Linked DNA regions of Homo sapiens: region 2 is linked to region 1. The links come from fine-mapping of genetic effects on gene expression. A gene starts in region 1. The other region holds a variant in brackets. All regions are shown on one strand. Distances are between the middles of the regions. Region 1 holds the start of ETV4 (ETS variant transcription factor 4). Region 2 overlaps MPP3 (MAGUK p55 scaffold protein 3).

What was found. PIP is the estimated chance that this variant, and not a neighbour inherited with it, causes the effect.
Region 2: its variant is the best candidate, but not a certain one, in a credible set for the expression of ETV4 in aorta (GTEx, PIP 0.87).

Annotation. Positions count from the first base shown.
Region 1 is chr17:43,544,477-43,548,859 of GRCh38, forward strand. ETV4 (ETS variant transcription factor 4) reads right to left here and starts at 1,864. Exons shown (of 13, transcript NM_001079675.5): 1 at 1,709-1,864; 2 at 1,082-1,192; 3 at 798-891; 4 at 499-546. The coding sequence starts at 1,141. It also overlaps a transcript of DHX8 not described here. RefSeq lists enhancers at 453-1,230, 1,231-2,008, 2,130-2,289 and silencers at 1,060-1,119, 1,160-1,209, 1,660-1,779, 1,830-1,969, 1,990-2,039.
Region 2 is chr17:43,825,097-43,829,479 of GRCh38, forward strand. It overlaps MPP3 (MAGUK p55 scaffold protein 3), which reads right to left. Exons shown (of 20, transcript NM_001932.6): 8 at 2,655-2,736; 9 at 660-745. Among named protein-coding and RNA genes, the nearest start is that of MPP3, 5.9 kb to the right of the region's middle. The variant C/T (reference allele first, on the strand shown) is at 1,808.

The DNA.
Region 1 (4,383 bases):
GCTTGGACAGTAAATTGTTTGGTGCTGGGGGTTGGGAAGAAGAGAAACCCAGGGGATAAGAATCAATGCTTGGGCAACTCTGGAGGATGAGTGACAAATTAATTTCTCCCCCCACCCCCCACCAACAACACCCCAACATGCACCTTGGCCTGGCGGCTTCTGCAAAACAAACTTTACAAATGAAAATTTCAACCAGGAAAATGGGCCTGGGGCCAAGTTCCATTCAAATAAGCAAATACCCCACACAATGGTCTGATTCATCCTCAAGCCTAGTTACACAAGCCTGGCTCAGGGTAGAGAAAATAAATATCAATATAAGTGTCCACGCTGGGTGCTGGGGTGAGTAGAGTGGCAAGGGACCTGGGGAGAGGGCCTTGGAGAACTCCTTGAGGCAGGGAAGGGAGAGGAGAAGTGTAGGGCTTAGGGTGGAATACCAGGGGCTACGGAGTGTCCCCCTGTCCAGCCTCCCAAAATAGAAAAGGTCACAAAACTACTCACCTTCAGCGAGCCACGTCTCCTGGAAGTGACTTAGATCCTGGAAGAGATCTGAGGGGTAAATAGTGGAATTGGAGGTGAGGTGGAGGGGACGGTAAGAGAGAAGGGGCCCTAGCAAGACCCGGTGACTCCCCTGCCTTGGGAGTAGGGACCGAGAAGAATGACCAAAATCCCTTGGAGGGCGAGTTTTTTGGGGAAACAGGCGGGGGTTCCAGAATCGGCCGTGTGTGTGTGTGTGTGTGTGTGTGTGTGTGTGTGTGTGTGGCGGAGGAGGGTCGCGGTTTGTCTCTCTTGCTCTTTACCTTCAGAGTCGAGGGGCGGCAGGGAGCCCGGGTCCATGAGCTTCCCCAGCGGGCCGATCAGCGCTTCGCGCAAGCTCCCATTTCCGGGCGATTTCTGCGAGAAGCGGGGAGAATGCCCGCGAGTCACCCTGAGGCGCTTAGTCTGGGGGACGAGGTTGGGGTCCTCGGGTGACTCAGGGGCGGGGCAGCCCAGGACTCCGCTGGGACTGCGGGGAGGGGGGCTGTGGTGAGAGTAGGGGCTGGGTGCGGGGCGGGGCGGGCGTGGAGGCCGGCGCGGCGCTCACGCTGCTGAAGGTGTAGGGCACTTGCTGGTCCAAGTATCCGGCTTTCATCCTCCGCTCCATCCGGCCGCTCCCTCCGGCCGCACGGCCGGGGCCCCAAGCGGGGGCCGAGACCTGGTGGGGGAGGGGGCTGCGTTCGCACACCGTCCAGGGAGGGCTGCGATGGGGGCGGGGAGGGGGCAGTCCCAAGGCTCTGGGTCCGACGGCGAAACTTCTCCGACTCACTGGGGCGATGGCGAGGTTTCCGCCTGCCAGGCCGAGCGCCACCACCACTCCCCTCCCGCCAAAGGCCAAAGGAGGTCCCACCTGCTCCCAGGAGCCGGGCTCGCCGTTTCTGCTTTCTGCAGCCCTGCTTTACCCGGGCTCGGTTACATAAGAACGTGTGTGTGTGTGTGTGTGTGTGTGTGTGTGTGTGTGTGTGTGTGTACGCGCGCGCGCGCGGAGGAGCAGGCGAAGCGCACACCATCGCATGCCCACAACTCCCGCGCCCCCTCCAACCCTGAATCCCAGCACCTCCCACCCCCGCCCTGGAATCTGCGGAGGCGGGTGGTGAGAGTGAGTGTGGTGTGCATTGGAGGCGAGGCGGGGAATCACAGACACTCTCCCTCCCTTTCCCTCCCGCAGCCTCACCTGAGGCCGGGGCGTCTGGGCTGGAGCCGCGGGGGGTCCCGAGCATGCCCTGGAGCCCGCACCGAGGGCCGCGGGGCTAGGCCGGAGTAAGGCGGCCCCGGCCCCGGGTCCCCAGCGCACCGACTTGTTTTTCGGGCGCAGCAGACAGTTGTGAGCCCGGGGGAGCAGCTGATTGGTGCATTTCCTTCGCTCGGCCTCAGCTCTCCACCCCCCGCCCCGCCACACCGCCCCCCGTTTCCCTTTGTTTCATTGACTTTTGTGAATGGAACCCCAGGGCTGGGCACGCCCGCCAATCCGGAGAGTCGTCCGGCCTGGCCGGGGGGCGGAGTTTCCCAGCCGCGGGGGCCAATCAGAATGTAGGGGTTGGCTCCCGGCTTCATTCAGTGCTCCGGCTCCCATTCATAAAAAAATAAAACTCGCGGCTGGAGTTCATTCATAAAGAACCGAGAGAAAAAGAGAGAAGCCGAGGACCCCGCGGCTTCTTCACCGTCTCGCCACGGTCTTGGGTCTGATGCGCCGCGTGCTCCTCCGGCTGGCGTCTGCACACGTCTCTGCATCTGCGTGTACGTGGGAGTATGAACATGTCTGTGTGCGCCCAGGAGGGAGGCGACCGGGCTTGTGTGCCCAGAGGAACAATAATAACTAGCATTTATGAAGCGCTCCGCTTCCACGTGCTCATTTCGTTCCCATAACCCGGCGAAATGGATCGTTTGTATCTTACAGATATTAAAAATGAAACTCAGAGAGGGATGGTAACTCTCCTGAGGTCACTCAGCTAGTCAGCACCTCTGGGGTTTACAGCCTCAAATCCCTCACACTCTCCTGTACACCCCTCTGAAGCCATGATTAAATGAGTTAAGCTATGTGACAACTGATACACAGTAGGTGATCAATAAATGTAAACTGGCACAGAATCCAGGCTTTTCCTCAAGGGTCTGTTCTCTGCAGAGCTGTTTTGTGACCCACTTTCTACTGATTGCAGCAGAAACCAGAAGCCCCAGGGTAGATGATTTCCGAAAGTGTAGCTCCCTCTCAGCCATCTTCCCTCTTATCTGAGAGCCAGCAAAAGGAGCAAAAGCCCCAAAGGTTCTGATGATCTGGAGGCAGGATGGGTTTCAGTTTTAGCTAAGAAGCTGGTCATAGTCTCTGTCATCTCATCCATTCACCACTTCTTTCAATAAACATTTATCGTGTCAGATACAGTGCTGGGTTCCAGGCAAGCAGCTATGTCCAAGACAGACATCTGAGGGGACCTGGGGTGCTTGGGCTGTGGCCATGGGGGCACAAAGGACATGAATCCTCAAAGGCCTTTTTGCTGAGACAATTCTCTATGTCTCCAGCCTATGCACTCCTTTGAGGACAGCCTGATTTTTTATCCTGCCTGTTTGTGATAAACACAAAAGAATGTTCAAATGCCAGGCCAGCAGGAGTGGCTTCCCAAATTCATCTAACCTAACACCCGCCACTTTACAGATGAGGCAGTGGAGTTTCAGAGAAGGAAATGACACATGTAAGCTCTTTGGGCCTGTCTGGCCAGAACTAAGGCTAAAACATACAATTGCTGTTTAGTGTTCATAAGGGCTCATTCCATGAGATCTGCTTGTGCAAATGGAAGTAAACTTCCCTTTCTATAGGTGCTGTAATATTCTATAAGGCTCATGTCTATTGTCCCTCTCCTCCAGGAAGCCTTCCATGATAGCCTGAATCAGTTCCTTTAGCCATATACAACATTCTTGACTATATCTCTGGTGTGGATGTTTTTCATCCTGCCTCATGGTATAGACATCCTTATCTATGGAGAGCTCTCCAGAGCTCATTTGCCTCTGAAAGTCCTCCTCAGCCTGTTAGCATGCTTATGAGGGTGGCATGAAATGCTTGTGTAGTGAATAGGTACAATAAAGACCAAATTAATTGAGCTTAGCAGGAACCCTGCCCAAGGAAGGAGAAACAAGCCCAAGCAAATCCCAGCTTTGGGCTGGATGGAACCAGTTTAGAGACAAGTGTGAGTTCTGGCCAAGAGAAGTGGAGAGGAGGACAGAGGGCTCTTCCTGGAAGGCAGCTTTGATGTGGTCTCCATGACAACGAAGAAGAGTCCAGTAGGTCTTTAAGTTGGTACTGGGCACTTCAGTAGGATGGGACCTCTCTAGGGATGCCAGTGCCCCTCTGGTTCTGAGTTTTTTTGTTTTTGTTTTTGAGACAGAGTTTCACTCTTGTTGCCCACACTGGAGTGCAAAGGTGCAATCTCGGCTCACTGCAACCTCCGCCTCCCGGGTTCAAGCGATTCTCCTGCCTCAGCCTCCCGAGCAGCTGGGATTACAGGTGCCCGCCACCATACCTGGCTAATTTTTTGTATTTTTAATACAGACGGAGTTTCACCATGTTGGTCAGGCTGGTCTCAAACTCCTGACCTCAGGTGATCCACTTGGCTTCCTAAAGTGCTGGGATTACAGGCATGAGCCACCAAGCCCAGCCTTTTTTTTTTTTTTTTTTTTTTTGAGAGACAGGAGGGTCTCCCTCTGTCACCCAGGTTGGAGTACAGTGGTGCCATCATAGCTTACTATAACCTCAAACTCCTGGCTTCAAGCTATCCTCCCACCTCAGCCTCCCAAGCAGCTGGGACTACAGGCATGCACTATCATGCCTGGCTAATGTGTTTGTTCATTTGTTTGTTTGTT
Region 2 (4,383 bases), 280 kb after region 1:
CTCCTCTTTTCAGATCTCATCCTGTTTCTGCCCCCAAAACCATCAGAAGTTAGCAGAGTGTCAGGTCAGGGGAGGAATCCTGAGGATAAAGGGGACCAAGCTATGATTGGGGCTTTTCACAATTTCAGTTTTGACTTCAACTCCCCAGAATGGACCATGGAGGTTTTCAGCCAAGCATTTTATACCTTAAAATCCCCTTACACTTCTGAAGGGCTTTACCCTTTTCCAGATGTTAGCATGCCAATGATAACCACACATTGGTTGAGAAAGAAACTCTATCCCAACGTTAAAGGAAAGGAAATGGAAACTCAGATGATCTGATGGCTTGTCCAAGGTTGCACAGCTGGAAGGAGGCAGAGCCAGGATTCACACCCAGGACCCAGGACCCAGGAGGGGCCTTGTGAAAGGGAACCAGGGGAAGGAAGGAAGGCTGTGCTGAGGAGAAGGTCTAAGAGAGGCAGATGGAAGGGAAGTTCCCCTCCTCCTGCTGCCACCCCATACCCCGGGCACACTGTTAGGGGCACACCATAAGGCCACTTTGCCTGCCACCTCCTCAGGACAACAGCAAGGCTAAGCCAGAATCTGTCCTGGCTCCAGGAAGTGCCTTGCTCTGGGTGTCTGAAGACCCAGCACATCCCTAGCAGGCTTGTAGCACGGACCAGAATCTGGCTGATCTCGTCGGGCCGCTTGTGCAGGACTGCGATCCCGTTCACTTCTCGGAGCTCATCTCCAACGTGGACCAGGCCTAGGAGACACAGGGACTGACCATCAGCACAGGAGGAGGACCTGAGCACCCCTCGCTCAGAGCTCCAAGCACCACAGGGGCCGGCCTGAGAAGCCCACTGCAGGGCCAACTCGAGGTTTAAAGTTGATGGGTGGGACTGGGGCGAACTAAGCCCTGCTAAGTGCTGGGCACCTCACTCGGCATGCAGGGCTCAAATCACCCAGTAAAATCTCCAATTTACAAGTTGGCACCTGAGACCCAGGAAGATTAAGCAGCTTGCCTAAGGCCACATTGCTGAGAAATAATGAAGCCAGTATTCAAACACAGTTATTATGATGTAGAAAGCCTGTGTTCTTTTTGCTATAATCTCTGCTTCTTTAAAATTATCATTAACTCTTAGAATGGCATTCTTAAGTCTTAACAAGGAAAGACAAAGGCACCAATGAAGACATCATTAAGAGTGTAAACACACTATGAGCCTCTGCCTGAATGACTAATGTCTCTGCATATTAGGGCCCTATATGCTACTCAAAGTGGGCACTGGCCCGGCTGCATCAGCATCACCTGGAGGCAGGTTAAAAGTGCAGAATCTTCGGCCTAGCTCAGACCTGCTGAATCAGTCTGCATTTTAACAAGATGCTCAGGGAATTCGTGGACTCGTTAATGTTTGCAAAGTGCTGGTCTAGGATTCTCTGCAACGATGACCCCCCAGACTTTGGGGGTAACATCGCCCTATACCAGGAGGTTTGTCTCCCAGCTTAGTAGCTCTTCCACACACCGGTGATTCTCAACCTTTCTACCCAAACGAATCTGGGGCACAAACACTCTCTTTGTAATAGTAGCTTGACAAGACCTGGGATGGTGGGGAAGGGTGTCAACCCTGTCCCACAGTTAGTAATCCCGCAAGCCCATGCTATATTCTTAACTGTCACAGTCCTTGGACTAAACCAACGCATGAGCTTTTTCTCAATCACCCCAAAGTACTCCATGACTATTTATATATATATATATTTTTTTTTTTTTTCTTTTTTTTTTGAGACGGTCTCACTGCGTCGCCCACTCTAGAGTGTAGTGGTGTAATCA[C/T]GGCTCACTGCAACCTCAAACTCCTGGGCTCAAACAATCTTCCTGCCTGGGCCTCCCGAACAGCTAGGACTACAGGTGTGGGCCACCCGTGCATGGCCTATATTTTCTTTTTCTTTTTTTCTTTTTTTTGAGACGGAATTTCACTCTTGTTGCCCAGGCGGGAGCGCAATGGCGCGATCTCGGCTCACTGCAACCTCCACCTCCCAGATTCAAGCGATTCTCTTGCCTCAGCCTTCCCAAGTAGCTGTGATTATAGGCATGTGCCACCAAGCCTGGCTAATTTTGTATTTTTAGTAGAGATGGGGTTTCTCTGTGTGGGTCAGGCTGGTCTCGAACTCCCGACCTCAGGTGATCCGCCCACCTCGGCCTCCCAAAATGCTGGGATTACAGGCGTGAGCCACTGTGCCTGGCTTTTTTTTTTTTTTCTTTTTTTTTTTTTTTTGAGACAGAGTCTCACTCTGTTGCCCAGACTGGAGTGCAGCAGCATGATCTTGGCTCACTGCAACCTCCGCCTCCCAGGTTTGTGTGTTTAGTAGAAATGGGGTTTCGCCATGTTGGCTAGGCTGGTCTGGAACTCCTGGCTTCAAGTGATCCGCCTGCCTCGGCCTCTTAAAGTGCTGGGATTACAGGTGTGCACCACCATGCCCAGCTGGCCTATATTTTCTATTAAAATTTCTACTGACTTGGGAAGGAGATGAGAATTCCAGCCACAACCCCAGAAAGCAAAGCAAATCCCAAACAGGTGACCTGATAGGAGGGAGGTAAGGGGACCTATTAGCAAAGGTGGAGGGCTCTGGAACAATGGCCATGATCGGGGCTGGGCCAGCTTTGCACTGCCGCCACTCACCGCTCCTGTCTGCTGCGCCTCCTCGCATGATCCTGGCCACCACAACAGCCCCTGAGTGCTCGTCCCGCCGGATGGTGGCACCCTGAACCCGAGACAGAAGAGACAGGTTCTTAAGCAGCAGCTCCAAACCTCAGACCCCTACTCTCTGGACCCAACACAGCCTCCCCAGTCCCTCCCTCTGACAGTCCAGAGAGATCAGTGGGGACCTTCCCAATGCTGAAGACAAAACAAAACCAACATCCCCCATTAATATAGCCCTGCACTGTACAGTTTACAAGGCACAATAATGCTGCAACATTTTAGATGAGGGACTGGGGCTCAGAGAAGTTAAATATCCTCAAGGTCACCCAGCTGGTAAAGGGGAAAGCTTTTTGTGATGCCAAATCCAGTAAGTTCTCCATCACATCTCTCTCATATCACAGTTCCTACCACTTGCAAAGACATTTAATAATGAGGATGACACGTGCCAGCTAATTCTCACCCTGCCTCTACCCAATCACAGGGTTACCGGGCCTTCTGCTGCTGCTGAGGGAAACCAATTATGCACCCCAGCCAGGGCTTCGGGACCAGGACTTGGCCCATGAAGCACAGCAGAGATGACACTTAGGATGAGAAAGGCACTAACGAGCCCTCGATTTCCTGCACCACACAGGCCGGACTGCAGCAGGACGGCAGAAAGCTTAAGAGCTAAGCTCTAGGGCTGGACAGCCTTGGGTGTGAACACAGTTCTGCCGTTTACAAAAAGCATGTGGACTTAACAAGGAAATCTCTTATCCTCTCCAAGCCTGTTTCCTGTGAGATGTGGGACAGCATTTAACTCACAGTGTTGTTGCAAGGATTCCACTCAAGGCACTTAGTACACAGTAAGCACTCAACATATGTTAACCACTTATTAGTGGCTGTAACTGCAAACACATTTGCACACTTATTGTTAACATCATCTGTGCCATCTATTTGAAGTACGTAAGATAATTATTGCTAGAAAGAGAGGCCATCAGCTAAGAACCTCAGGACTTCTAGCCCCCCAGAACTGAGAACTTTCCAGCATCGCTATCCATCATTTATTCAGCTCTGAACCGCCAGCACCCAATACAGAGCCTGGATAGGAGGGCTCACAATGTGTTTGCTAAATCAATGGATGGCCACTCCATTTTACAAGTGAGGAAACAGAGGCAGAGGAGAGATCCTCGTCTGTTTGCAGAAGAGGCTCGTCGGAGGTCATTTGGGGAAAGTTGGAAATAGAGAATGCCAGCTGTGGGATCCTCTGGAGCCAATCTCAATTCTCTGGGCTTCCACCACTTCTGAGCATCTCATAAACAACGCTGTCCCTTTGCTCGGTAAATCAATGCTGAACCAGGACCAAAGTGATAGCAGTCTGTCTGCTGGGGAGAGGAATGCCCTGTGCTTCCTCAACATTCAGAGCAGGCATTGTCACACGTTTTCTATAAGGGGCCACATGTAAATATTTGAGGCCAGCCACACAGTCTCTGTCACAACGACTCAACTCTGCCATCGCACTATAAAGGCAGCCACAGCCAATCTGTAAGTGAATGGGCCTGGTTGTGCTCCAAAAAAGCTTTATTTTAAAAAATAAGCTGTGGGCTGGTTTTGGCCCTTGGGCTGTAGTTTGTCCATTTCTGGCTTAAAGCATGATCAGGGTCACCCTGTACAATTGTGCAGGTTATTAACTACACAAAGGGTGTTGGCCACAGTTGAGAGGGGCTGTATC